Regions from separate parts of the Homo sapiens genome. Here regions 2 and 3 are each reported to be linked to region 1. The links are microRNA targets in miRTarBase. Many come from high-throughput screens and were not tested one by one. Region 1 holds a microRNA gene; each other region holds the end of a gene's coding sequence.
Evidence for each region. The annotated mature microRNA hsa-miR-4441 reads ACAGGGAGGAGAUUGUA and lies in region 1 at 3,703-3,719, shown strand. An mRNA with a match to its seed (bases 2 to 7 or 8) in the 3' UTR can be bound and repressed. Matches are read on the target gene's strand: a 7mer-m8 pairs with bases 2 to 8, a 7mer-A1 pairs with bases 2 to 7 and ends in A, and an 8mer does both.

Region 1 (7,284 bases):
AAGAGCAGCTTGGCTAACTTGGCGAAACTCCTTCTCTACTGAAATACAAAAATTAGCTGGGCATGGTGGCGCATGCCTATAATCCCAGCTACTTGGGAGGCTGAGGCTGGCGAATCGCTTGAACCTGGGAGGTGGAGGTTGCGGCGAGCCGAGTCACGCCATTGCACTCCAGCCTGGGTGACAGAGTGAGACTCCGTCTCAAAAAAAACTAAAAAATTAAAAAGTAATAAAAAAATAAAAATAGCACTAATGTCTTGCCTGTGGACAGCAGCTGGTTCTCACACCTGCCCGGCGTCATTCTTGGGACATGTTGAAGTACATGAAGGAATCCTGGCCCCACACAGATACGTAATTGGAAATGGGAGCAGGATTTTAATAGACTTTTCAGAGGTATTCTAATTGTGGGTATTCTTTGACAGTATACCAAAAATTCAGCAAGTGGTAGTGTCTTGAAAATTAGCTGCAGTGTGGATCTGAAATCAAATCGTGGCCTCCTCCCCCTCCGTTTTGTTTAACTGAACCATTAGCCCTTCTTGGAGATCAAATCGATCCTTCGTTCATGGGTGATTGGTAGCACCGTGCGTTGGTCATTTGGAAACTTAGCTTCACGGAGTTACATGGATCTTCCATATTCTGACCCATACAGTATCAAAAAAGTCATTAATTTTTGAAACCATTAATATCACCCCCATCTCACCAGAAGTCTTATAAGTAGTGAGAGAGCCAGCAGGCTCACAGGGGCAGAGCCGTGTGTTCCAAACTTGTAATTTTCACTGGAAAGCTCACAGTTTCTCACGCTTCCTTCCCGTCTCTTTACTCGGGATGTTAAAAGGACGTGTTTGAGGGCGGAGATCTACTAAAATGTCTGAATACTGCTTCATCGAGCACATTGTTAAGAGAAGCTGCTCACACACACACACACGCCCTGGTGCTGTTCCCTGCCCGCCGTCTACCCTCCGGTGCTTCAGCACCATCGGCGCAGGTGTCAGGGCAGTGAAAAGAGTACATAGAGCCTCAGGACTACGTGGACTACAGACCCTCAGCAGGGGTCGGGACCGAGGGGTCTGCAGCCTACACTCGGAAGCACTGAGTGCAGAAACGCAGGGAGGCCAGGGCCTCTTGAGAGCGTTTGCCGCCACCTCATGGGCTGCCCTCGCCCCTTCCTGAGCCTGGTCCCTGCGGCGTCCGGCTCACCCCGTCCATGGCATTGTCACTCATGGTTGGCCGGCACTTTTTTTGAGGCTTCATTACAGACCTTGACCACACAGTGTCCTGTTGCTGGTGAGACCAGGAGAGGACTGGAATCCATTTTTATGGCAGCAACTACAGAGTGGTTTGCAGATGGATTTTTGACGCAGAAGTGATGGGGCAGAGGACAGCGTTTCTGCCCAGTGTGAGAGGAGCTGTTTCGTGGGCTGCCCACTTGCCCGCCATCCTGAGAGCTGAACTGCAGTAAGGACAGAGGCAGTCACGTGAAGGCCAAGCTGGGACACAACGTCTCTGCCCCGCGGCCAAGTCCTTGAGTGGGGCCCCTTCTGCTTCATCTTCCTCCAGTGGCCACCTAGCGGGTCCTGGTCCCGAGCCGACGGGGAGTGAGCACATCCTTTCCACATCACCCCGACCCCTGAGCCAAGGGCACCACGCCTCACCGACAGTTCTGAGAGTGGGCAGGCACCCACCTGTTATCCTAGTGACTGCGTTTCGGGGGAACCATTAGTAGCCCCCAGACCTCTTTAGGAGAAGGGCCCAGGCTTCCCGGAAAGGCTCCCAGCTGGCCCTGCATCCTGTCCCCATCACTGTGGCCAGGGTGCAGCAAGAAACTGTCCTCCTGTGTAGCCCAACTCTGCTAAAAGTTGAGTGTGCAACCATTTTCCCGTGGCTACAAAGTGTGTCTTTTGTTGCTCTCTCCTGGCTGTCTGGTGTCACCTGCAGAATGGCTTTGCTGTGGTCCGCCCCCCTGGACACCATGCGGAGGAGAGCACGCCCATGTGAGTACACGCCGCAGCCCCGCACAGCAGGGGAACCCAGGTCTTCCTTCCCTCCCTTAGGGCTGGGTGGGTGTGTGAGTGACTGCGGGGAGCTGGGCTGCTGTTTGCTGGCCACCCAGGATGTGCCGCATGCCGGCTTGGCTCCAGCTCCTGGGTGTGGAGTGCAGATGCCAAAGTCTGCGAGCATCACTGCTCGGTTATGACGGAGACAGATCAGAGGAAAGGATGGGAAAGGGTCTGTGGAGGTTAGTCCAGAGAAGCCTCTGGTTGTTGAGTAGTTGTCAACACTTGGGAGAGGAAACACCACTCACCCTCAAGTGAGTCACTGCAGCACTTGCTTGTCTAGAGGACTCAGGTCATTTTGCGCATGGCCTTTTAGCTGCCTGCCGAATGCCTGGTACTGACGCAGCAAGCCACAGAGCCACGTCCATGCAGGCAGCTATCCTGATGCTGTTTCGGGTCTTTCAGAGACTGCCGACGGTCCATACAGCTGAGGATCTGGGCAGGGTGGCGAGTGTGGGGTGTGGGTCCTCCCGGATCCATCCCTGTGTGTCCAGAGCCAGTGGCAGGACAGACCCGCAGCTGTCTGTGGAGTGCCTTGCAGCCTGGGTGGTGAATGAATGATCTATCCCGTCAAAGAGCATGCTGTCTCCTGGGACGGTAGCCGCTCTAGTGAGGAGGGGTGGTGCTAGAAAGAGCGTCTCCCCATGCTCTGGAGATGGAGAAGGCGTGCCTGATCTTGCCAGCTTCGGTGAGGAGGAGGTGGCATAGGGCTCTGCCTTGGAGAGTTGGAGCAGCAGTTTGTCAGATGGCAACGCAAGAACAAGTGCAGATACAAGTTCACTATCAGGCTGTGGCCAGGAAGCAGTCAGAACAAGACAGAACCGCAGGGGCCCGGGAAAGGGCCTCCCTGTCACCCCTGGGAAGTCAGGCGTCCACGGAGGGGCCGGCAGGACGTGAGAGATAGTCAGATCCGCGTGTTAGAGCAGAATCTCCTTCACGTACAGGGAGGAGACTGTACGTGAGAGATAGTCAGATCCACATGTTAGAGCAGAGTCTCCTTCGTGTGCAGGGAAGAGATTGTACGTGAGAGACAGTCAGATCCGCGTGTTAGAGCAGATTCTCCTTCATGTACGGGGAGGAGACTGTACGTGAGAGATAGTCAGATCCGCGTGTTAGAGCAGATTCTCCTTCATGTACAGGGAGGAGACTGTACGTGCGAGATAGTCAGATCCGCGTGTTAGAGCAGAGTCTCCTTCGTGTACAGGGAAGAGACTACGTGCGAGATAGTCAGATCCGCGTGTTAGAGCAGAGTCTCCTTCATGTGCAGGGAGGAGACTGTACGTGAGAGATAGTCAGATCCGCGTGTTAGAGCAGAGTCTCCTTCGTGTACAGGGAAGAGACTGTACGTGCGAGATAGTCAGATCCGCGTGTTAGAGCAGAGTCTCCTTCGTGTACAGGGAAGAGACTACGTGCGAGATAGTCAGATCCGCGTGTTAGAGCAGAGTCTCCTTCATGTGCAGGGAGGAGACTGTACGTGAGAGATAGTCAGATCCGCGTGTTAGAGCAGAGTCTCCTTCGTGTACAGGGAAGAGACTGTACGTGCGAGATAGTCAGATCCGCGTGTTAGAGCAGAGTCTCCTTCGTGTACAGGGAGGAGACTGTACGTGAGAGATAGTCAGATCCGCATGTTAGAGCAGAGTCTCCTTCGTGTACAGGGAGGAGATTGTACGTGAGAGATAGTCAGATCCGCGTGTTAGAGCAGAGTCTCCTTCATGTACAGGGAGGAGATTGTACGTGAGAGATAGTCAGATCCGCGTGTTAGAGCAGAGTGTCCTTCGTGTACAGGGAGGAGATTGTAACCGCCAGGGAGGGATGCTTGTTGGAATCTTTGTAGCTTTACCTGAAAACCACGTGTTTGCTCCACATCCCAGAACAGTCACTTGGGCACCAGGCTTCCTGTTTGTTTCATTTCTCTGAAGTTTCTTTTCTAATTTGAACCTGAGTTGTTGGATATTCCAAATAATAAACCTCAGAGGAGACAAACGAATTGTGTTTTGTTGCAGCTCTTCGCTGTGCTCCCCGTGAGCCGCTGCAGGAGCTCAGCGTCTAGGATGTCCTGGGGCGTGTGGGCTTCCCCATGCCAGCCCGGATTCTGAAAACAAAACAACTAGTGTTTCTCCGTTTCTGTGGTCATTCGGACAAAGGGAATTTGAGATCAAGAAGGTTTTCGTTGTTATTTGAATCACTTTCATAGCTTGTTTTCTTGGTCTCTTGAGTAAGACTCTCTAAAATTAAAGGTAATTTATGTATTGGAATATAGGAAGGTCAGCAGGAAGCAACTGAGATGAACGGCTGCCATGTCTCCTGGGGCGTGGCGGCAGCTCCTGAGAGGAAGGGTTCCAGGTGAAGATGAGGGAAATGTTGGTAACATGTGAAATAGGGTTCCCTACCAGAGGAGCGTGGGGGACCTCCAAGCAGGAGAGTGTGTGTGTGTGTGTGTGTGTGTGTGTGTGTCTGTCTGTCTCAGTATGGAACTGTGGATGTGTGTGATAGGTATATGCTTATGTGTATATGTGTGTGTGTGCTTGTATGTGTCTGTGGTTTGTGTGTGTGTGAGTGTTTCTGTATGGGGTGTTCATGTGTATCTGTGCATGTGTGTCTACGTGGGGGGGGTGGGTATGGGCGTATCTGTGGGGCATATATGTGTGTAGGGCGTTTGCATGGTGTGTGTGTCTCTATCTGTGGGGTGTGGGGTGTGTGTGGGGTGTGTGTCTGTGTGGAGTGTGTGTGGGGTGTGTGTCTGTGGTGTATGGGCGTATCTGTGGGGCATGTATGTGTGTAGGGCGTGTTGCATGGTGTGTGTGTCTGTGTGGGAGGGTGTGTCTCTGTGGTGTGTGTGTCTGTGTGGGGTGTACGTGTGTCTCTGTCTGTGGTGTGTGTGTCTGTGGGGGGTGTGTGTGTGTCTCTGTCTGTGGTGTGTGTGTCTGTGTGGGGTGTGTGCATGTCCGTGTCGGTTAGCCGACCCTATGGCATTGGCTAAGATTCCCCAGTGGCTTGTTTGGGAGCTGTGTGTGTGTGTGTGTGTGTGTGCGCGCGCACGCGTGTGAGTGTGTCTGCATGTGGGGTGTGTACGTGTCTGTCTGTTAACCGATTCTCCGGCATCACTGAGGGTTCCCTGCGACGTATTCAGGAGCTCTGCACTCACAGAGACCTCTTAGGTCTGCGTGGACCCCGAGTGGCTCTCTGGCGGGCCGTGGAGAAACTGGCCACCGCCCACCTGCGCTTCGTCTCCAGCGTCAGTTCTCTCCCGCAGGGGCTTTTGCTACTTCAACTCCGTGGCCGTGGCAGCCAAGCTTCTGCAGCAGAGGTTGAGCGTGAGCAAGATCCTCATCGTGGACTGGGTAAGCAGAGCCGCCTTGGCCAGCGCAGCTCAGGTTGCTCCTTTGCCGTCCCCGAGCGGACAGCAGCGTGTGGACAGAGGAGCTGGGCTCTTGGATGTGGGAAGCTTAGGTTTCTGGAAACGGTCTCAAAGATGCGGAGAAGTAAAGCCCCAAACCTGCTACAAGTCATTGTACAGCTTCCGTCAGCCGACCCTGGCGAATGGGGTCCTGGCGTGTCTAAAAATGTGCCTGTGGGTGACGGCAGCGGCCAGGGCCACCCTCGACGAGATCTTCTTGGAAGACAGGTGTTGGGGAGGAGGCTGTGTCCACATCTACTTTGCGTGTGTGGCCTGGGAGCCTGGGAGGACCCTCACCCTGGTCGAAGGCGGCAGTCTGCTTCTCAGTCACCCCAGTGAAGCCCGTGCCTTCCTGCTGCTGTGTGGGCACCTGGTCCTGCTGGAATGGGGGGTGCCACTGCCCCCAAAAGAGTCATCTCTTTTTAAATAATGCTATATGATGTCCGAATCTGAATTCCACGAATAGGTATACTCATTCTTATACCGGAAATTAATATTCAAGATATTCATCTTATTACTCTTTTTAAAGCCAGATATATACATATTTAGTGTTCTCTTTGGTATTTATGATTTATTTCATAATTTTTAAGGGAAAAAAGCAGGCCCTGTCAGGTAGGGTTATGATTTGAATTGGAGAAGTCCTTCTGAGTTTGGGTAAAGAAACAATATGGCACAGCCAGGACAGCCATGCTGTTTCGGAGAGGCAGGTCAGGGGATGCGGCAGAGCAGCGGGTCCCCCACACCCAAGGACCTGCGAGCCGGGAGCCCTCCCTCAGCTCCTCCTAAGGGAGCAGGTAGGAGTGCCTGGGAAGAGAGCAGTGTGAGGTCGCTGATGGCTAAAGACTGGGGACCCATCCCCAAAAGAGTGAAGCGCTAGGACACGCAGACAGGCTGCGTAGACCCTGTGTGGCGTGCTCCCTGCGCGCTGAGCTGTGATATTGCCCATGTACACACCATGCGGACAGGGTCATCTCAGTGTGAAGCCACATGTCGGGAAAGCCTCCATGTGCGTCTTCACAGCGATTACCTACTCTGTGGGGTGGAAGGTTCTTGTCCATCGCTCCTCACCTGTAGCTGCCCTTCCGCCTTTTCTGTGATGAGCACAGATAACGGAGCAGCAAGTTCTCGTGCTGGGAACATCAGGGCTGCATGCTGTCTTCTCAGGCACACAGCTGTTCTCAGCGGGGCCACCCCCTCGCCCGCCCATCCTGGTGACCACCTGCCCTGTGGCCCGGGGCAGAACAGCCACGGTCAGTAAAGCCCCAGGCTGCCTGTGCTCTCTGCTGCATCTGACCTGTGGGTTTTGTGATTAAGAAACGGTGCTTGCCATTTGGGCACAGGGGCCTGGACCCCGTACTGTGTGTGCCTGTCACTCACGGACACCTGGGACTTGTCTCCTGCCGAACGCCCTGCCTGGCATGGAATTGGCACCTCCCACGTGCCTGCAAGCGGGCAGGCCACAGCCAGTGACCTCCTTCCTGACAGAGGCTGAGGAAGTGGCTCACTTGTCAGAGACACGGCAGGTGTAGGAAATTGATCAGATGGCTTCGTCTGGGAAATGGTGGCCTCTAGGCCTGGCTGAACTCCAGCCCCATCGGCTGCTGGAGTCAGGATTGTGCCATGGCGCTAAGGGCGAGGGAAACAGTGCTGCAGACGCGAACATTGGCCCTTAGAACCCCTGCGACCCTGCACCACGTAGCCCTGACCCACACAGCCCCAGAATCGCGCCTGCCGGGTACGGGCCCAGCTGGAGGGTAATGTCATTCCTGAGCAGGAGCCGTTGTCACTAAGCACAACTGGGGTTGGGGACGGCCCTCAGGGGAGGCCACCCTCCAA
Region 2 (7,284 bases), not on the chromosome of region 1:
ACTGGCCTACGGGGGCTATGAGGGATCCCCCCAGGGCTACGCCGAGGCCTCGATGGAGAAGAGGCGCCTCTGCCGATCGCTGTCAGAGGGGCTATACCCCTACCCACCTGAGATGGGGAAACCAGCCACTGGGGACTTTGGCTACCGCGCCCCAGGCTACCGGGAGGTGGTCATCCTGGAGGACCCTGGGCTGCCTGCCCTATACCCATGCCCAGCCTGCGAGGAGAAGCTGGCGCTGCCTACAGCAGCCTTGTATGGACTGCGGCTGGAGAGGGAGGCTGGAGAAGGGTGGGCAAGTGAGGCTGGCAAGCCTCTCCTGCACCCAGTGCGGCCTGGGCACCCGCTGCCTCTGCTCTTGCCTGCCTGTGGGCATCACCATGCCCCGATGCCTGACTACAGCTGCCTGAAGCCACCCAAGGCAGGCGAGGAAGGGCACGAGGGCTGCTCCTACACCATGTGCCCCGAAGGCAGGTATGGGCATCCAGGGTACCCTGCCCTGGTGACATACAGCTATGGAGGAGCAGTTCCCAGTTACTGCCCAGCATATGGCCGTGTGCCTCATAGCTGTGGCTCTCCAGGAGAGGGCAGAGGGTATCCCAGCCCTGGTGCCCACTCCCCACGGGCTGGCTCCATTTCCCCGGGCAGCCCGCCCTATCCACAATCTAGGAAGCTGAGCTACGAGATCCCTACGGAGGAGGGAGGGGACAGGTACCCATTGCCTGGGCACCTGGCCTCAGCAGGACCTTTGGCATCTGCAGGTGAGGGGCACCAGAGTGCGGAGTGCCCAGGGCAGAGGAGGTTCTGGAAGATGGTGGGGAAGTCAAGGGGGAACAGGGTGAGAAACAGCTAAGCCAGACAGAAGAGCCCCATCCTGCTCACAGCCCACCTCTCCCCTTCACTGCAGAGTCGCTGGAGCCGGTGTCCTGGAGGGAGGGCCCCAGTGGGCACAGCACACTGCCTCGGTCTCCCCGAGATGCCCCATGCAGTGCTTCGTCAGAGTTGTCTGGTCCCTCCACGCCCCTGCACACCAGCAGTCCAGTCCAGGGCAAGGAAAGGTATGCAGAGGGGCCGGGGATGCTCGAGTGCTTTCTTGTCCAAGCAGTTGATGAAGGCAGGTGGGGTGGGAGCAGCCACAATGGGGGCTCTGCTGACCATCTGCCCTTCCACCCTACAGCACCCGGCGACAGGACACCAGGTCCCCCACCTCAGCGCCCACTCAGAGACTGAGTCCTGGCGAGGCCTTGCCCCCTGTTTCCCAGGCAGGCACCGGAAAGGCCCCTGAGCTGCCGTCGGGAAGTGGGCCTGAGCCTCTGGCCCCTAGCCCAGTCTCTCCGACCTTCCCTCCCAGCTCGCCCAGTGACTGGCCTCAGGAAAGGAGTCCAGGGGGCCACTCAGATGGCGCCAGTCCTCGGAGCCCTGTGCCCACCACACTTCCTGGCCTCCGCCACGCCCCCTGGCAAGGCCCTCGAGGCCCCCCCGACAGCCCAGATGGGTCTCCCCTCACTCCTGTGCCTTCCCAGATGCCCTGGCTTGTGGCCAGCCCAGAGCCGCCTCAGAGCTCACCTACACCTGCTTTCCCCCTGGCTGCCTCCTATGACACCAATGGCCTTAGCCAGCCCCCACTTCCTGAGAAACGCCACCTGCCCGGGCCGGGGCAACAGCCAGGACCCTGGGGCCCAGAGCAGGCATCATCGCCAGCCAGAGGCATCAGTCACCATGTCACCTTCGCACCTCTGCTCTCAGATAATGTCCCCCAAACCCCAGGTATAAAGGCCTTGAGGGGGTTGGTGCCACCTTGAGAGAACCCTTTCTCCTGGGATGTAGCATGGATGGGGACCCGGGTACCCTGGGGTCTGAACCTACTCCCTCCCTGTCCTAGAGCCTCCTACACAAGAGAGCCAAAGCAATGTCAAGTTTGTCCAGGATACATCCAAGTTCTGGTACAAGCCACACCTGTCCCGTGACCAAGGTGAGAAGCCAGCCTGCCCCCACCCCACTGCATCCCACCTTCCAGGGTGTCTGTCTTGGCTTTAAGTCCCATCCTGTTGAAGCTCTTGGCTCCTCCTGTCTGAGCTGTGTTTACTCTTGGCTGAGTGTTTACCAGCAGGTGATTCTGGGCTTTGGGCCAAGGCGGTGAGATCCAACATGGTCAAAACCCCTGTGAACTCTAGAGCCCTGGCCTCAGACTCTTACCGCCACCACAGCTGTCAGGGCAGAGACCATGGAGCTTGGCAGCAGAGGAGGGGGGCTGCATGGGGCTCAGTCCACCCCTGTGAAAACTCCTCCCCACTGCCCGCTACCCCTCACCCTGCAGCCATTGCCCTGCTGAAGGACAAGGACCCTGGGGCCTTCCTGATCAGGGACAGTCATTCATTCCAAGGAGCTTATGGGCTGGCCCTCAAGGTGGCCACACCGCCACCCAGTGCCCAGCCCTGGAAAGGTACAGAACACCCAAACCTGAGTGGGGTGGGGATGAAGTTGGGGGTGGTGCCAGAGGCAAGGTAACAGGGCAGGTGGGGGTGCTGTGCTGGCCATGCCGCTGTAGAGGGGAGAGGTAGGAAAAGACCTCAGCTGCTCGGGAAAGAATCCCATTAGGGAAGAAGCTGGAACCTGGAATCCTAAAGCCGCAATCTTCCCCTCGCCTCCTCTCAGGGGACCCCGTGGAACAGCTGGTCCGCCATTTCCTCATCGAGACTGGGCCCAAAGGGGTGAAGATCAAGGGCTGCCCCAGTGAGCCCTACTTTGGTGAGAAGCAGGAGCCTGGGGAAGGCTACGTTGGGTCGGTTTAGGGAGATGCCAAGGGATCTCAGGAGGATGGAAGGGAAAGGCGGGGCACCCTGGGCATCTCGGGACTTTCCTACCTCCTCTCCCACAGGCAGCCTGTCCGCCTTGGTCTCCCAGCACTCCATCTCCCCCATCTCCCTGCCCTGCTGCCTGCGCATTCCCAGCAAAGGTGAGTGTCTGGTCATCTGTCCTCCCCACCTCTCCCTACCCCCTGCAGCCAAAGCAGGATCCAGAGGTCTTGGCTCCCCGCCTTCCCTTGGGGAAGCAGAGGGAGTGCTCCAGCCTGGGGAACACTCTGCCTTCTGAGCTTCCCTGTCGGTTCTCATTGCCCTCAGATCCTCTGGAAGAGACCCCAGAGGCTCCAGTGCCCACCAACATGAGCACAGCGGCAGACCTCCTGCGTCAGGGTGCTGGTAGAGACTTCCCCTCCACTCCCCTCCCTCTCCCTGGGCACCAAGGGGGCATTGTGGATACAGGGCATGGGGCACTGAAAGGCCTTGAGGTGGGTGAGCCCTGGCCAACCCATGAGGGCAGGGGAGCCCCATACTGTCGGGGATGAGGAATTGGGTCCTCAGCCTAGGTTCTCAAAGTCTCATGAACAAGACGATCATGGGGTGGTAGCAGGGAGGCTTCTCTGCCTCGCTTCTGACTGTAGATCCAGTAGAGTCATGGAATCTGCCTTTTTAACAAGTCACCTATGTGATTGTAAAGCATGTGACAGCAGTAGCTGGGGAATGTGCAAGAGCTGGTGGGGGTGGCTAGGGGATGGGCACTCCCTCCCTGACCCACTCCCTGCCCCTGTAGCCTGCAGCGTGCTCTACTTGACCTCAGTGGAGACAGAGTCACTGACGGGCCCCCAAGCTGTGGCCCGGGCCAGCTCTGCAGCTCTGAGCTGTAGCCCCCGCCCGACACCAGCTGTTGTCCACTTCAAGGTGTCAGCCCAGGGCATTACACTGACGGACAACCAAAGGAAGTATGTATACTCAGCCCTGTAGAACCCCATGCTTAAGGCCCCTGGGGGCTCATGTTTCTGAGTGTGACCTTCCTCACCCTCCTCCTTGCAGGCTCTTCTTTCGCCGCCATTATCCAGTGAACAGCATCACCTTCTCCAGCACTGACCCTCAAGACCGGAGGTGACTCTCCCTCCAAACCCTTTGCCCCAAATCCCCATGGTCCCACCAGGTCCCAGCTCCCAGCCCCAGCCCCAGCCCCGGCCCCGGCCCCCCTTCAGCAGCTGTCCCCTGGGGTGTGCATCTTCACCTTCTTCTCCTTCTGCAGATGGACCAACCCAGACGGGACCACCTCCAAGTAAGCCTCCCCACGAATTCAGCCTCTTCCTTCCAAGGGACCAGGGCGCTGCTGTCCTCTCAATGCTGGCATTTGATTTGTCTCACCAAGGCCAGCTACATTCCCTTGTGGAAGGAATGTTAAGCCCCTTCCCCACCCTTTATCCCCCTAGGATCTTTGGTTTCGTGGCCAAGAAGCCGGGAAGCCCCTGGGAGAATGTGTGTCACCTCTTTGCAGAGCTTGACCCAGATCAGCCTGCTGGCGCCATTGTCACCTTCATCACCAAAGTTCTACTGGGCCAGAGAAAATGAAGGAAGGCCACAAGCTCAGAGCCCACATCAACACTGCCCCCCTCCCAGCACCCCACAGCCCTCACATCCCCTGGCCTGGACCCAGGAGACCCAGGAGAAAGCACCCTCCCTTAGGAATGAGGAGTGGGCATCAGGCCTGGGACACTGCTCTCCTTCCCCGCCCCCAGCCTGCTAAGTTAAGTGGACAGGCCCACAAGATGACCTTGCATGTGAGCAGATGGCAGAGATGGGTGTGTGAGGGGTGAGGAGGCATCAGCAGTTGAGCCCCGAAGGAGATCAGGCAGCCCCACCTGCAGGAGAACGTCAGCCCTCCAGGGGATCAGCCCCTGCCAGTTCCACCCAGCTGCAGGTGCCAGCACGGCAGGGATGGGAGAGGGGTGGGGAGCGAGTCACTGCCTCCTCTGAGCAGAGATTCAGAGTAGGATCACATGAATAGGGGAAAAAAGAGAGTCTATTTTTGTCTAATAATAAAGAATTTCTATAAACTTTAGCCGAAATTGGAGTCAACACTTATTCACAGGAAGGTCAAAGCCTCATCTCCCAGGGGACGTATCTGTGCTCAGGCCTGTAGCCAGGCCCATGGAACATATGATTCCCATCCCTGGCCCAACATTGGTCCACATCTCCCCATGAGCAAGCTGCCTTCGGCTGCCCCCATCCAGCAGTCCTGTTCCTAGCCCAGTGGACTAGAAAGGCTCCTGGTTCCGGCCATACTGATAAATACGGAAACTCCATCTTTATCGGCTGTATAAACATCTCTGGTCTGTACATACATTTCATACATCGTAGGGTGGGAAGCGAGGGCCAAAGGGAGGCCCAGCAGCACAACAGCTCACCCGCTTTCCCTACAGCCCTACCCGCTCTGTGCAAACCAAGGCCAACAGCTCCTGCTGCCTCTTCCTCCCTGGAAAAGTCACTGTTACGGGGAGGGGGCCAGGGGTTGAAGGATTAGAAGGAGATAGAGGGCTTGGTGGGGAGGACACATGTAAGTGCTAGAATCAAACACTGAAGCGAAACAGGCAACTGGCACAAGCAGCAAGCTGAGGCATGGGACGGGGCAGGAAAAGGGGAGGGAGGGGCCACGCTGCCCCTCTGGGCTTGCTCAGCTAAGGCTCTGGGGTCTTGCCCTCACGCTGGCAGGGAGACAGGCCCCAGAGCCTCAGCCCCAATACCCGGGAGCTAGGGACATGGGTGGCACTGGTAAAGAAAGGATGGAAGGGGAGAAAGGAGTGAAGGCCCTAGTGCCCTGTCACCTCACAGCCCCTCTCTCTTAAACATGCAACAGGCACCCACCCATGTGGGTCCAGGTATGGGGAGCCAGAGACCTAGATCCTCTGTGGTGCCTGAGCAGGTTGGGGTGGGGAGCCAGCTCTCAAGGGAAAGATGGAGAGCCTAGAGGAGTCTTCCTGGGGCAGCAGCCAGTGAAAGGACAGAGATGACCAAAGAGAGGTCCCCTGGCCCTGCCAGGGGTATGACAGCAGCAACTGGTTCACACAACCAGGAAAGAAAACAAGAAAGAGGAATTCAAGGAGAAATACCATGGTGAGTAGGGGAGGGGGCTGTCTACTCTACCCTCTACAAAGCATCATGCCCGAATAGCAGCTGAGATAGGGTGCTCACGCCTCTCCACCCACACAGGGCCGGTGAGGGAAAGGGGGACCCAGAAGCCCACTGACCAAAGCGAGTGGGACCACCCACATACCAACACCATTCTTTGGGTCCATTCCTGTCCAACCAGGGACTCAGGCCCAGGGACTGACAACAGTGGCAGCACCAGGTCAGAAACGTGGGCACAGAGAAGCGTGACAGGGGCCTGAGCCAGTGGGGGCAGAGTGACTACACACCTCCAGGGGCCTGCTGGGTAAACGAAGCCTCTGGGAAGTCAGGAACTGGGTGCCTGGCCCAGCAGAGGGTGAGCAGGGAGAAGGAGCAGGTCTGGAGGGGAGGCCCTAGCCACTCAAGGGGTGCAGATCTACTTTGACTTTCTCCCCGCAGCTCAGCATTCCAATGGTGGGGAAGAAGCCTCCAGAAGGAACAACAGCATCCTTCTTCCCAATGATCTTGCCATTCCGAGTGAAGAAAACCTGGGGAGGAGGTGGGGAGAAGAATGGAGCAAGCAGGCTGTGGCCTCTTCCCTGAGGATGCTGGAGCTCCACAGGCCTGAACCCCAATCACCCCAGCTTCCAGCGGGGCTGGAGAGGGGCAGTTAAGGTGTTATGGGAAGTGACCACCAGAGGGCGTGCTGAGGCCGGAAAACAGCCTCCCAAGACCGTCTCCCGATCTCAGCAACCCCTGGAGCTGGGAACAGCCCTTGGGCAACGCCAGAGCTTCCCGTCTTTCCCACCCTGGTTGTGAGTTCTGTTCCCCACTAATACCCACCCTTTGCCCAGACCCAAAAACCCTGGTCCCACCTCAAACTCTCCGTACTCACCACCACCTTCCTGCCCTCATGCTCCGGCTCTATCTCTTCCCCATCCTCTTCCTCTTCCTCTTCCTCCTCTTCCTCTTCCCCTTCCTGGTGCAGGTACATGACATTCCGCACGTTCCGGACGGCCCGGGCAGTCGGAGACAGGATCACTGTGTCACAACTGTCATCACTGTCCCCTAGGAGACCAGGAAACCTGAGCTCCTGTGGTGCCTTTCCACCCTCGGCCCCAAGCAGCCTGGCTGGCCACCCCTACCCCACTCACCCTCACTGTCCAAAATGTAGTCCCGGGGGAACATGATTCCACAGCCCATGATGTCCCCTTTGTAACAGCGTGGCCCAAAGGGGTCCCCCACACCACTGCCATGGAAGATCTTCCCATCGTCTGTTGGAGGGAGGGGAAAGGACAAACACTTGAGGAAGGAGGGCTGACACCACACCCCCAGAGTGGCTCATGAAGCTGAACACTTCCCACCC
Region 3 (7,284 bases), not on the chromosome of region 1:
TTAATGGGCTGGTTACTGTCACACACAAGCACTGTCCCAGCATTTGCCAGTTCTCATCTGTCCAGAAAAGTCAGAAATCCATATTTTTTATGAAGTCTTTCAGTTTAGAGATTCGCATTCTAGAAGAACACTGCAGGTCAAACCAGACAAAACTAGATCTGGATCTGGACTGCTGAAGAGTGGCTTCTGTTCTAGCCAGGTGGACCATTACACTTGGTTTTCATATCGCCTTATTTTTATCTGACTGTAATACAGTTGATCAGGTAACAGCTTTATTTAGATATATCCTAGATCCTAAGGAAACATAGTACCTTTATTTTTTATTATTTTTTTGAGACAGGGTCTTGCTCTGTTGCCCAGGCTGAGTGTGGTGGCAGTGCCGTGTTCATAGCTCACTGCAACCTTGAACTCCTGGGCTCAAGTGATTCTCCTGCCTCAGCCTTCTGAGTAGCTGGGAATACAGGTGCTCGCCACCATGCCCAGCTAATTTTTTGATTTTTCTTTTGCAGAGATGGGGTCTTGTTATGTTGACCAGGCTGGTTTTGAACTCCTGGCTTCAAGCAATTCTCCTGGCCTGGCCTCCCAAAGTGCTTTGATTACAAGCATGTGCCACTGCACTTGGCTGCATAGCAACTTTAAAAAAAGGATTTAGACACACACACTCTGATTTCTTTATTGGATTCAGGGGATACCCTATTCTCATTAGTACTGTATTTATAAGCCATATTTTAAGACTTATGTTACAGGTGATCAATCTAGCCTTTCTGTTCATTTTTTGGGATTCAATTTCAAAGGCCTTCCCATCTTGGCTTAGATTCTGGAGGGTGTAAGCCTGGAGGTCCCTTCTGGGGGCCGTGGGAAGGAAGACACAGAAGGGCTCCTGGGGCGGGGGATGTTCTTCAGCTTTGCCTGCTCTGTGGAGCTGGTGTCATAAAATGTTTATGTGGATGGAATAAATGTGATAACACTACTGGGCCTTTCAAATCAGTAAATGTCTCCCTTTGAAACTTAACAGTTTTTTCCACCTACAAATTCTTAATTCTTCCCTAGGGATCTTCGGCAGGAAGGTGTCCGACAAGCCCATGGTAGCTGGTTCCGTCTCTCCTTTGTATACAACCACTATCTCTTCTTTGCCTGTATCCTGGTGGTGCTACTGGCCATCTTCCTATACCTTCTGCGGCTACGCCGAATTCACCACCGACAAACACGAGCCTCAGCTCCATTGGACTTGCTGTGGCTTGAAGAGGTGGTGCCCATGATGGGAGTACAGGTGGGGCCGTGAGGCTGGACCAGGACTAGAGAAGCTTGAGCACCCCCGAGTTGCTGCTCATTGAATTCCTCCACTTTCTTATATAGCCTCAGATGCTGTGATGTCTGACCTTGTGGATATTTGCCCTTGGAATTTCTACTTTACTTTCTACCGTAATTCCTTCTCCGTACCCAGGTCTTCTCTGAGAGAAGCTATAATTTAATCTGTGAGGAACTAAATGACAGGAGATTGGTGCTAATACGGGGGACCAAGCTTTGTCCAAGTGAAGCAGGCTTCGACTCCTTCTGAGAGGTCTGGTGTGTTCCTAGAATCTCACCTTTTCTTCCCTTGCTAAAGCATGAAGTTTGGCATTTGGCACACTGGAAGCCTGGTTGAAATGAAATTTGTAGCATCTGATACAAAGCCAGAGACATTCTAGCAAGTGCAGCAGCCCCTTCTTTCTCTGTAACAGAGATATCATTTATGTGGAGATCCACAACCTTTAACAGGGATCCAAGATCTTTGCAGTTCAATCGACCACATAGGAATTTCCAGGCACCAAAATGATATAACTTCCTTGCTTCCTTGACAAAGAAGCCATCATGGGTGTGATCCAAGATCCCTGTCGTAGTGTTGATGATGTTAGTACATGATTTTAAAGGTTAGAACCCCTTCTAAATGAATGGTCTGTGGAAGATTTTAGTATCTTATCTGATGCCTGGTATGATGAGGATAGAAAATTTTTCCATTTTTATGTGCCTCACAGGCTGTTTGGGCATTAATTTTGCTTTTTGAGCCTTAAGTGTGTTAGTAGGATGGAGAAACTGTGATGGGGACTGGGAACCTGGATTTGTCTGATTTTAGGTCACTGTTCCCTGGGCCTGTTTTTGTGAGCCCTTACACAGGAAGATATAAAGAGAGTTCTTTCATTTCACTGCTAAAATCAGTATGTAGTATGGGGAATGTATTTGGGTTGTTTTTAAAGAAAAGGGGAACAGAATCAGGAGAGTGGGCAAAGGCAATAAAATCAAAGTTCTTATTAATTATTTCTGAGAAATAGAAGTTTCTCAATTTATGACTCTTGGAATGTCTGAAAGGGAGCAAATTTGGAATAGATCAATCTGTTAATAAGCCATCTGGCAACTTTCAGAACCTCTATTAAGAGACTGCTGAGTCACAAACAGCACTTCCATTAATGAAGCGAGAGGAAAAGCCATAATAATTACATCTTCACCCACTACCCTTCCAGAGCTTTGCTTCTCCTCCACATTTAGCCATTAAATTGCATGAGGATTTCTCTTCATCAGGGTCCGCATGGAATCTTTCTTATATTTTACCCTTTCCTACATGTAGCCTTGAATGTCCTTTCCACGAATATGCTCCCACGGCTGGGAGCATTTTCTTTTCTTTTCGTCACCTTTGATTTTTGGGATTAGATTAATAGGGGAAAAAGTCCCTGGCTTTAAAGAAAACAAAAGTAGAATTCTTCAAAAATAAATTTCATACTGGGAACAGAAAGGAACTAAATGCTTCATAAAACAGGGAAAAAGAAATTAAGATCATCCTAGAAATAAACTAAGATAAAAATAAGTATACTGACCCTTGGTTGGTAGATAAAAAGATGACCAGTCTTGTATTGTTTTAAAATTAGATAAACATGGATTAAGCATGCAAAGACTCTGTTCCTTTTTTTTTTTCTTGGAGACAGGGCCTCACGCTGTCACCCAGGCTGGAGTGCAGTTGTGCAACATCATGGCTCACCGCAGCCTCAACCTCCTGGGCTCAAACAGTCCTCCCAACTCAGACTCCAGAGTAGCTGGGACTACAGGTGTGCGCCACCACACTCAGCTAATTTTTTATTTTATTTTTTTAGAGATGGAGTCTGTGTTGTCCAGGCTGGTCTCAAACTCTTGGGCTCAAGCAATCCTCCCACCTCAGCCTCCCAAAGTGCTGGGATTACAAGCATGAGCTACTGCACCTGCCCTCTGTTTCCTTTGGAAATCTCTTACCTTTCATTAGGGTTTCTTTCATAGCAATTTCCTTTGGTTTTTAAGACTTCTACATTGCTTTTTCTTTTATTATCTGTGCTCCGTGAACCTTATGAATGCTGCTTAAAAATAATGTCAAAATATGTTTTAGCTGCCTACTCAGGTAACGTTTTCTTTTGCTCTCATCTTGGTTTCCATATACTATTTTTGGTTTTTTGTGAGATCTAATCAATGATCTAGTCAGAAGCTACTTCACTGGCTAACAGTGATCATGTTCATGTGCTAAAAATGAACTTGAAACACGGAAGTAGTGGTTGGTCCAGTTTGAAAGCTCTTATTAGTATTCTTCATCCTGGCTGTAATAATAGCCATTATTTGTTATGCCTTTGTTATGTAGCAGACACTCTTAAGGATTTTATGTGTATTATTCAAATTGCTATTACTGTTCTTTTTATAGTTGAGAATCTCAGGATACCTACATTTATCACTTTTTCAATATATATGTATTTCTTATTCTTATTTTGTCTTGGAGTGTTTAATGTGTTATTTCCTGTTCATTACTTTAATATTATGGTATCTAGGCTTGTCTTTATTACCATGAGCAAGGTCTCCAGGAGTTCCACAGTACTGAAGGAAAATTTTGTCATATCCCTCAGAAGAACTGAATATTTATTATTGGTATGGGCTCCTTTGTTTATTCTCTTCTCCCAATTAATAGATTTTAAATGAAATCTTATTAGCTAGAAACAAAAGCCACTTACTCCTTGCTGAGAGCCAATTACTTAAATATATTTCTTCCTTATAATAAAATAATTTGCTTCTAGGAGCAGAAATCTATCTTGCCATACCCTTTGGTTTTTAAAGATTTCTCTTCTATTTGCATTTCTGCACTTTGGTGGTTCTCCCATGAAGATAATTATGGTGTCATAAAATTCACATTCCACTGGTTCCTTTGAATCTTACCAACCACTCTTGTTAACAGAGACAATGAACCTGAACTGTTTTAGGACTCTTGTTATTACTGAGACAGGTCACAAACATCAAAATAGGAGTCCGTGGCTTGTAGTGATGCTTTTTAGTCTTGTGATAGCACAATCCATCACTTTCCCCAAAATTCTTGTCATAGAACATAATGAAAAATATGTAAAATACCCATTTATGTGGCATTTCATTCACTTAAGTTGCAGTTAACTCTAAGCCAAATTATACCATTTTTTCTCTCTGTACTTTAGCTCCTTGAATTTCCTTAATCTGGGAAACTTTTGTTCCCACACCAAGGAACAAATTCAGGGGGTACAAGTGCAGGTTTGTTACATGAGTATATTGAGTGATGCTGAGGTTTGGGGTACAGATCCCATCACCAGGTGGTGAGCATAGTACCTAACAGATAGTTCTTTAATCCATGCCCTCCTCTCTCCCTCCCTGCTCTAGTAGTCCACAGTGTCTATTCTGGTCTGGGAAATTTTCATCACTTTCCACCAATCTTCTATTTATTCTCCAAATGTCTTCCAAAGTATCCTGCCCCACCCCCTCCTCATCCTAAGAGATTCCTTTAACTTCAAGATCATATCCAGTGATTGCTGAAAAATGTCTGCCATGCACTTGCTAAGCTAGTGTTTTTAGGCATTAACATTTATTATCACATCCATATTTATATTTTTGAAATAATTTATACTTCTCACTGATATCATCTAAACAGATGCTTCTCACAGTTTTATGTTTTGTTTTTTGTCAGGGATGAAAGACAAGTGAGTGGTATCACTTAAGGGAAAGAACAGTAGGCTTAACGAATAGCAGACCTGGATTCTAGTTCTGGCTTTGTCATTTACTAGCTCTGGTACCCCAGGCCAGTCACTTACCATCTCTGGTTCGGTTCTCATCTATCAAACAAAGAGGCTAGACAAGATTAGAAACTAAAGGCAGAAGACAAGGTAGAAAAATCATATGATTTTGGGAAGAGCATTTTGTCCTTTGGTTTAGAAGACCAGGCTGCCCAAAAGAGCCTCCTATTTTATCCATAACCCCTGATGATAAGGTTGGTGGGAACAGAGTTTCTAATAGTAATCATAATAAATTTCAGAAGAGTTTTAAAGCTTCTGGTCAACCCCCTTGATTTATATGGGTGATAAAACTGAGGCCTAGAGCAGTTGTAATATGTGCAAAGTCATAGTGACTGGCCTCCTAGCCCAACTACTTTGTCAGCTACAATGAAATGCTCATTAACAGAATCTTTCTGCAAGTATAAACAGAATCTATTTTTTATAAAACAGCTGGCCACAACTAACCATGCCCCATCTTTACAACTGCTTCTGACATTCATTTATGACTGCTTTGCTCACATTTAGGAATAAACTTTGAAAAAAATACTTTGTCAGAAATAGTGCCAAGTTTTCACTACATCTATTCTTGTTCCTGTATTTCTTTTCGTACTTTTAAATTTTATACATCTTTTTAAAACAATTTTATACAATTTCCTTTACTACAACATCCAAGCAATTCATTAGATGACTACAGCCTAGATGAAGGTATAAATGCCTATTACATCTACCTCATTAAAGAACTTCGTTGTAATTCTTGGGCAGTTTCCAGACTCTGTTACAGAAACAGAGGGCTGTTTCTTTTTGTTGTCTTTAAACTTTTCAAATTAATTCAAAACTAGTATCTAATTGTCCTTTTTGCTGTGGTATGTGGTGTAATGTTGATTGGGAATAAGAATTATGGTAGAAATAGCAGATGTTTCAAATTCTCCCATATTAGTCTCTTAGGGACGCTAGCTCCAGATTCCAGCCCCTGGGGCAATAACTTGTGAGGATTTTCCTGGTGTTACAAAAAATATTGCTGTTAAAAAACTAAGACTCAAAACCAAAAGTTGTGATTAATAATAACAGGATTATTAGTCAATAATATTTTGATTAATACTATAGAATAGCAACAGTGAATATACCTCAAATTGAAAACTTTTAGGTTGTGTTCTTGGCTCATTCTCTCATAACCTGGATCTAAGTTGGAAAGCTGTGGCACCCTGTTTGGGTGTCCCATCTACCCTGTTTTCTGTTTCTGCAGATGGCTTGTTCAAGCTTCATTTTAAGCCTGCTCTGTCTACTTATCTTCCTTATATCCTAATAGACTTCTCTTGTGTTATTACACATTTCTCTTTTGCTCTAATATTTCATTATTTTCCAGTTTGTCAGTACCGTTATCAGAGGGACGAGGAAGGAATAACACACCAGTTGACCATTTTGTTTCTCTGAAAATCTGAGCAATACGGAGATCCTTTTATTAGTAAAACTGAATCATTACTCATACTACAAGGGCTTTCACTTTTAAAATGTAATCCATCATTGCTTGCCATTTTTATGAAAACCAAAGTTGAAAAGTCTTCTGAATCACAGGCTATGTATAGCCACACATGCATGACTTCAGGCTAGCATAAAGACATGTCTGCTCCTGAGCCTCTTCTTTTAAAGGGCAACCACTTGTATACCCTCTGGTGGCCACTCCTCCTTCTCCACTCCAAGGCAGCCCTGGTACTTTCCTAAGTGGCCCCTCCTACAGAGCACTTGCCGGCATTTGGCCTGCTGCTGGTGAAGACGCCCCTTACTAGCTTCATAAATGTTTTTCTGCAAGCAGGGATCCCAGACACATACTTTGGTTTCTAGTGTTTCAGTTACTATGTTGTATTTGAAATTCTCATTCCACAATTACCCTTTAGTTGAAGTCCTGAAGTACATGCCATGTACTCCCCCTTTATTTCTACCTTGATCAATGGCCTCTGCGGAGTGTAGTGAAAGACATCTTTTTATTATGATCTACACTTTAAAAAACCAAAGGCTGCCTGTATTACATTGCTTTGGGGAGTTGTTAAGACTCTGTTTTTTCTACTGCTTCACATTAAACAATAATTTTGTTGAATTTTGAATTCTTAAAATTCTCACTGACAAACATTTTAGGTCAGTGTTGAGGAAAATGTGTGATGCATGTTAGAGAGGTGATGCATTCTCCCTTATGCAGGGACATGGGTATATGTGTTACATATGCTGATATATA

Region 2: miRTarBase lists SPRYD3 as a target of hsa-miR-4441. Seed matches in the 3' UTR shown: 7mer-m8 at 6,300-6,306 and 7mer-m8 at 5,520-5,526.
Region 3: the mRNA of ENTPD7 is a reported target of hsa-miR-4441. Seed matches in the 3' UTR shown: 7mer-m8 at 4,656-4,662.

Annotation. Positions count from the first base shown.
Region 1 is chr2:239,082,263-239,089,546 of GRCh38, reverse strand. It overlaps MIR4441 (microRNA 4441), which reads left to right and starts at 3,621; the gene lies at 3,621-3,720. HDAC4 (histone deacetylase 4) reads left to right here. Exons shown (of 27, transcript NM_001378414.1): 19 at 1,933-1,988; 20 at 5,305-5,392.
Region 2 is chr12:53,059,501-53,066,784 of GRCh38, forward strand. SPRYD3 (SPRY domain containing 3) reads right to left here. Exons shown (of 11, transcript NM_032840.3): 9 at 7,073-7,192; 10 at 6,814-6,986; 11 at 4,816-6,466. The coding sequence ends at 6,332. It overlaps TNS2 (tensin 2), which reads left to right. Exons shown (of 29, transcript NM_170754.4): 18 at 1-758; 19 at 905-1,055; 20 at 1,175-1,764; 21 at 1,880-1,969; 22 at 2,315-2,440; 23 at 2,653-2,745; 24 at 2,876-2,953; 25 at 3,120-3,197; 26 at 3,589-3,757; 27 at 3,849-3,917; 28 at 4,063-4,092; 29 at 4,244-4,879. The coding sequence ends at 4,382. Among named protein-coding and RNA genes, the nearest start is that of MIR6757, 6.2 kb to the left of the region's middle. RefSeq lists an enhancer at 6,439-6,940.
Region 3 is chr10:99,703,402-99,710,685 of GRCh38, forward strand. It overlaps ENTPD7 (ectonucleoside triphosphate diphosphohydrolase 7), which reads left to right. Exons shown (of 13, transcript NM_020354.5): 13 at 1,051-7,284. The coding sequence ends at 1,282. It also overlaps a transcript of COX15 not described here. Among named protein-coding and RNA genes, the nearest start is that of COX15, 25 kb to the right of the region's middle.